Linked DNA regions of Homo sapiens. The protein of the gene in region 2 interacts with the protein of the main gene of each other region in a biochemical or structural test. Each region holds a gene or a part of one and is shown on either strand. Other genes may lie near its edges.

Region 1 (3,500 bases), on a different chromosome or scaffold from region 2:
AGAAAATTTAAAGAGCAACAAAGCTCTGACATTTAAAAGAAATGAAGTACAAATCTCTAGGGACCTTAAAGATCATCTAATAATTTCCTCATTTTCTAGATAAATAAACTGAGAGACCCCGAGGATAAATGATTTGCTCAAAGTCAAATATCTACTTAATATAGGAAATTTAATTTCATTCTCAGTCTGTTAACATGCAACTTTTCAATATAGCATGTTATTTCATGCTATCAGAATTCACAAGGTACCAATTTAATTACTACAGAGTACTTATAGAATCATTTAAAATATAATAAAATTGTATGATAGAGATTATATGCAATAAAACATTAACAAAATGCTAAAATACGAGACATATTGCAATAAAGTATTTATAAAATTGATATTTATATGTTTTTATATCTTAAAGCTGTGTCTGTAAACTGATGGCTAACAAAACTAGGATTTTGGTCACTTCTAAAATGGAACATTTAAAGAAAGCTGACAAAATATTAATTTTGCATGAAGGTAGCAGCTATTTTTATGGGACATTTTCAGAACTCCAAAATCTACAGCCAGACTTTAGCTCAAAACTCATGGGATGTGATTCTTTCGACCAATTTAGTGCAGAAAGAAGAAATTCAATCCTAACTGAGACCTTACACCGTTTCTCATTAGAAGGAGATGCTCCTGTCTCCTGGACAGAAACAAAAAAACAATCTTTTAAACAGACTGGAGAGTTTGGGGAAAAAAGGAAGAATTCTATTCTCAATCCAATCAACTCTATACGAAAATTTTCCATTGTGCAAAAGACTCCCTTACAAATGAATGGCATCGAAGAGGATTCTGATGAGCCTTTAGAGAGAAGGCTGTCCTTAGTACCAGATTCTGAGCAGGGAGAGGCGATACTGCCTCGCATCAGCGTGATCAGCACTGGCCCCACGCTTCAGGCACGAAGGAGGCAGTCTGTCCTGAACCTGATGACACACTCAGTTAACCAAGGTCAGAACATTCACCGAAAGACAACAGCATCCACACGAAAAGTGTCACTGGCCCCTCAGGCAAACTTGACTGAACTGGATATATATTCAAGAAGGTTATCTCAAGAAACTGGCTTGGAAATAAGTGAAGAAATTAACGAAGAAGACTTAAAGGTAGGTATACATCGCTTGGGGGTATTTCACCCCACAGAATGCAATTGAGTAGAATGCAATATGTAGCATGTAACAAAATTTACTAAAATCATAGGATTAGGATAAGGTGTATCTTAAAACTCAGAAAGTATGAAGTTCATTAATTATACAAGCAACGTTAAAATGTAAAATAACAAATGATTTCTTTTTGCAATGGACATATCTCTTCCCATAAAATGGGAAAGGATTTAGTTTTTGGTCCTCTACTAAGCCAGTGATAACTGTGACTATAAGTTAGAAAGCATTTGCTTTATTACCATCTTGAACCCTCTGTGGGAAGAGGTGCAGTATAAATAACTGTATAAATAAATAGTAGCTTTCATTATTTATAGCTCGCAAAATAATCTGTATGGAAGTAGCATATATAAGGTATATAAACATTTAGCCTCTTGATAGGACTAACTCACATTCTGGTTTGTATATCAGTCTTGCCTGAATTTAGCTAGTGTGGGCTTTTTTTTATCTTGTGAGTTTGCTTTATACATTGGGTTTCTGAAAAGATTTCTTTTAGAGAATGTATATAAGCTTAACATGTACTAGTGCCAATCTTCAGACAGAAATTTTGTTCTATTAGGTTTTAAGAATAAAAGCATTTTATTTTTAAAACAGGAAATAATATAAAAAGGAGAGTTTTTGTTGTTTTAGTAGAAAACTTAATGCCTTGGATGAAATGAGCCATGGGCAGGGTTGTAATGAATTGATATGTTTAATAGTATAGATCATTTGTGAATAATATGACCTTTGACAAGACACAAGCCATTAACATCTGTAGGCAGAAGTTTCCTTCTTTGTAAAATGAGGGAATAAAATAGATCCCTAAAGTGTGTAATTTTAGTATTTCTAAACTTTATGAAGGTTTCCTAAATGATAATTCATCTATATAGTGTTTTTTTGTGTGTTTGTTTGTTTGTTTGTTTGAGATGGAGTCTCGCTCTGTCACCTAGGCTGGAGTGCAATGGTGCAACCTCGGCTCACTGCAACCTCTGCCTCCTGGGTTCAAGCTAATCTCCTGCCTCAGCCTCCTGAGTAGCTGAGATTACAGGCATGCACCACCATGCCGAGCTAATTTTTGTATTTTTAGTAGAGAAGGGGTTTCATCATGTTGACCAGGCTGGTCTTGAACTCCTGACCTTGTGATCCACCCACCTCAGCCTCCCAAAGTGCTGGTATTACAGGCGTGTGCCACCACGTCCAGCCTGAGCCACTGCGCCCAGCCCATCTATATAGTTTAATATCAATCTAAATGAATTTCTCAGTCCTGAGCCTAAAAATTTAGTTGTAAAGAATGATATCCTTGACTAATAATAGTTTCTATTAATGGATTGCATCTAGTGCTAGGTGGCATATATTTAGTCCCCACAACTACCCTGGAAGGTATTTAAAATTTTTCACATTTGCAGATAAGGAAACTAAAGTTCAGAGTTCGGCAACATGCTTGAATTCAAGCAGCTCCTAGGATGTTAATGGTGGAGGTTGGGTTCAAATCCAGATCTGTCTGACTCAAAAAATGCATACTCCTAACCAGTGCACTATATCCCAATTCCATAGGAGCCCTTCTTTGTGATTCATAGCACTTTCCCATGAGTTTTGTTGATTTTGTGAGAAACAAAACTCTTTTTCCTTTGGACTGTCTGGAATCTCTCTTTTTCAAATTTTTGAAATGTATTTCTATGCCAAAAGACAAAGATTTCTAGAGGAATATGCCTAGGATGAGAATTATGTAATTTAAATCACAGCTGGAAAGAGAGAAAGTCCTAAGTTACTAAGAAATGTTCAAACACAAATGAGCTTTCAGTCTATTGGAAGACCTTTATAGCTAGAAGTATACTGAACTGTACTTGTCCATGGACCCCTGAAGAAACAGGTTAAATCAAAGAGAGTTCTGGGAAACTTCATTTAGATGGTATCATTCATTTGATAAAAGGTATGCCACTGTTAAGCCTTTAATGGTAAAATTGTCCAATAATAATACAGTTATATAATCAGTGATACATTTTTAGAATTTTGAAAAATTACGATGTTTCTCATTTTTAATAAAGCTGTGTTGCTCCAGTAGACATTATTCTGGCTATAGAATGACATCATACATGGCATTTATAATGATTTATATTTGTTAAAATACACTTAGATTCAAGTAATACTATTCTTTTATTTTCATATATTAAAAATAAAACCACAATGGTGGCATGAAACTGTACTGTCTTATTGTAATAGCCATAATTCTTTTATTCAGGAGTGCTTTTTTGATGATATGGAGAGCATACCAGCAGTGACTACATGGAACACATACCTTCGATATATTACTGTCCACAAGAGCTTAATTTTTGT
Region 2 (3,500 bases):
ATGTTATCTCCGATTCATAGCTGATAGTACCAGGCACTTTGTCATGGTGGCGGCTCATAACAAATTGATGCTTAAATTGATTGCTTACATCTGTTGCTCTAGTTGGTGAGTCTGACTGAGATGTGATTACATCCACAGATTCAGGTTGTGCAACTTCCTCCAGACCTGCAGAGGGTGCCTTCTGTACCTGTTCTAGAGTTTCGTCTGGACCAGGTCCATATTGTATTATTTTACCATCCAAATCATTTGGGCGGGCAGCAGAGACCCTCTGAAATCCTTCTGTGGGAAAAGCACAGTTTTTGGTTGGCGTGTTTTCTGGAATAGGCTCAGTCTCTGTACGCACTTGGTCTTTTGTGACATTTGAATCTAGAAGACTGCTACCAGCTGATGTTATGGTTTCTGGATCGCAGCGATTCTTCACATCAAAAGTAGAGTTTTTTTCTAAATGTAGTTTATCTGGTCCCATCTCAACTGCAGAAGAGTCTAAAAAGGACAGTATGGTGTCTTCAGTGGAGTATTGACGAGATACTGATTTATTTGCTGTATGCGGCCTAATCTTACTTGGAGACAAGGCAGCCGTTGTGAGTGTGCTTTCCTCTAAATAAGGGAGATCTGTATTGTTTTCTTCTTTTTGCTTAACTTCTTCAGACTTGTTGATGGACCTAAGGTTAACAGATTTCAGGATCGTTGGTGTAATTGCAAGGGACGGTGGAGGATTCGACCTCAGTGTTTCTCCTACTGTGTTCTGCTTATTATGAGTAAAAACATGCAGTGGATGACGGTGGTGGAATGGTTTGTTCAAGACATTATGAAGAGCACTTAGATCAAGATGGGTAGGAGGTATAATTGGAAGTTCAAGGTCTTTACTCAGTGATATAGTTCCATCTTTTAAAGAGGGTTGCTGTAGTGAGGATTTTCTTTCTGGGACTTTAGGTTTTCTTTTGCTACCTCCGGGAGACAATGGACCTGAAAAGAAAGCTGTAGGGAAAGAGGATGTTGGCGTTTCAGACTGGCTTGAATAGCCACTTGATGGAGATGCCAAGCCAGCCAGCTTTTCTGGTGAAGCCAGTTTAAACTCATTGTCAACAGAAGGAAGAGATGGGGTGGTGGCTCTTGATTCTGATTGTGATGTTTGGGATTCAGAGCTCTCTGGAGATTTGATGCATTCAATGACTGTGGTACCCGTAGCGGTGCTTGAATTAGATAGAGATCTATAAGGATCATTTGTTTTCAAGTCATTTAGGAGCCAGAGGTCTGCATAGTGTGTGGATTCGGCAACTTCATCTTTGAATGGTGGAATATCCGAAGCATCTAACTGAGGTTCCTTAATGCCTTGTTCACTCTGGTTTATCCAAGAAGGTTCCTGCTTGGTGGGAAGATTGGCGTTTTCCATTCGAGAAGGCGTGTTGGCGAAATCAAGAGGCAGCTTCATTTCCCTGGAACTGTGAGGCAGGTGCTGACCACTGCTTATCTTTGGTTCTTTCTTCTCAGAAATATCTGCGTTTCCATCAGACTTCCTCAATGATGAGCTACGTTTAGGTGGGGTCGGCTTTGCCTTTGGTTTCCTGAAAGAGATGCTTGGTCTTCCCTGCCTCTTGTGGTCTAAGTAGTCCTGCCAGGCACAATCTGGAAGACCAGGGGAAGCCCCTACACCCTGGCCATTCTCTGGGCCCAGGGCTGCATAGTGACAGACATAGCTCTTATTACCTTTGAGACCACAGTCAAAGTGCATGGAGGTATAGTATCCTTCCGTGTCTACTGAAAAGTGAGAGCTAGTGTCCGCTTTGTCTGATGGAGACTTTTCCAGAAAGCTGTCATAAGTGGCCATGCTTGTGAAGCTTGGGCAGCCCAGGCTGTCTGCCTTGGGACGCTCAGGACTAAAATCCTGGCGGCAGGAGGCATCATGGTGGTGGTGTAGGTAATTCCACTCACTGTCACTTGTGTTGCTGTTGTTGGGATCATCCAGCAGGTCTGCAACAGTGGAGGTAAAGGAGTTTGCCCGATGGCCTCTCACTTTATCCAAGTGGTCATTGTATTGCTCTGTCACGAAAACACTGGCATCCTCATTGGCATGAGGGGCTGTGTTTAGTGACAACTCCGAGTCACAGTGTGAAGAGCCAGTGAGTGGAGGAGAAGCTGCAGGAGGGATGGTTTCTGAGGTCTGCGAGGGGCACGTGGAGCTGCTCCCACTCCAGTTGCCACTGGATGACTGGTGGTCATCTTTCTGGTCCATGTGGCTGCTAAGGAGGACGCCAGCCGTGGAGATGCAGTGGATGGGGCTCCCAAACGTGTCTGAGTTGGAGGAGATGTCACAGCTGCCAGAGTCAGCAGCCATTCGGGACAGACGTGACCTTCCCCTCTCACTTAATTTGTGCTGGGGGCTGTGAAGATGTTGAGAGCAGGCCAGGCCCAAAGTAGGCTGGTGGTCCTGGGCACTCGGGCTGCTTGGAGCCTCACTGAAATCATTAGGGGTTCTTTCATGGTCACCCACAAAAGACTCTCCCTCTTCATATGCTGAGGGTTTAGCGCCAACTTTGGGCTCAGCATCCCCACCTCTATTACCTTCCCGGGGAAGGCTCCGAGATCTTGTGCGGCTGCTCACTGCAGGAGTAAACATGGTGTCACCTTTGTCTGCTAGGGCAGAAATGTTGCCAGCAGAATGAGAAAGGGAAGCTGCAATGCTTTGACCCCTTTGAGCTCTGATTCTCCTTCTGGATGGGGCAGCAATCAGAATATCCTCGGTTTGGCACTCAGAGTCCCTGGTTCCGGATATCCTATTGACAGTGTTGGAGGGGTCTGGGTTTGTGTGCACAATCACATTCCTTTCCCTGGCCACTGGTGATTCATCAGAATCTAGGGCACATGGAAAGCACAGTGAGATATTTTCTATATCAGCAGACCAACAGACATTCTGAGCTATGTCTGTAGATCTGTGGGCTGGCAGGTTAGAGCTGTTTTTTTTTTTCTTTAACAGAAAAAAAATCAATATATAGAATTAGGTGAGAGTTAAAATGCTTTAGGGTGTATATACACGTCCCCCTCATATATGTATATATACATACCAAGAGAAGATATGCTTTTATGTCTTTTGTGAATTATCCCTCTCTTCACTATCACGTTAATTTGCCACAATAAGTGACTACTTTTAAAAACTAAAGTACATTTTATCTTTTTGGCCACTACTCTTCATTTTTATTTTGTAATATAAACATGATGAAATAAAAATCATAGGTCTCATTATTAGAAATAAAAATCTTATTTGCAAGAGATGATACCCTAATAATTTTTTAAAAATCATAGGCAGAGATATTTTAAATCCACTAAACAGAAACATTGTCACCAAAGGTATCATATTATCAATATTCAATATTTCATTGCATATGCCTGGAATTTACCTTTTAAAATAATTAATGACATGAAAGTATATCTCTCTTAAATTAAGTTACAATTTTCCAAAAAGAAAACTTTCATTGACTCCTGCTACTTTTTATTCACAATTT

Evidence for each region.
Region 1: the proteins of NHS (region 2) and CFTR form a complex in vitro, tested with the Homo sapiens proteins (one study listed by BioGRID).

What each region holds. Positions count from the first base shown.
Region 1 is NC_000007.14:117,591,525-117,595,024, forward strand, and holds part of CFTR (cystic fibrosis transmembrane conductance regulator), read left to right. Parts: intron 1-409; coding exon 410-1,133; intron 1,134-3,405; coding exon 3,406-3,500. UniProt on the Homo sapiens protein: Epithelial ion channel that plays an important role in the regulation of epithelial ion and water transport and fluid homeostasis. Mediates the transport of chloride ions across the cell membrane.
Region 2 is NC_000023.11:17,724,700-17,728,199, reverse strand, and holds part of NHS (actin remodeling regulator NHS), read right to left. Parts: intron 2,854-3,500; coding exon 1-2,853. UniProt on the Homo sapiens protein: May function in cell morphology by maintaining the integrity of the circumferential actin ring and controlling lamellipod formation. Involved in the regulation eye, tooth, brain and craniofacial development.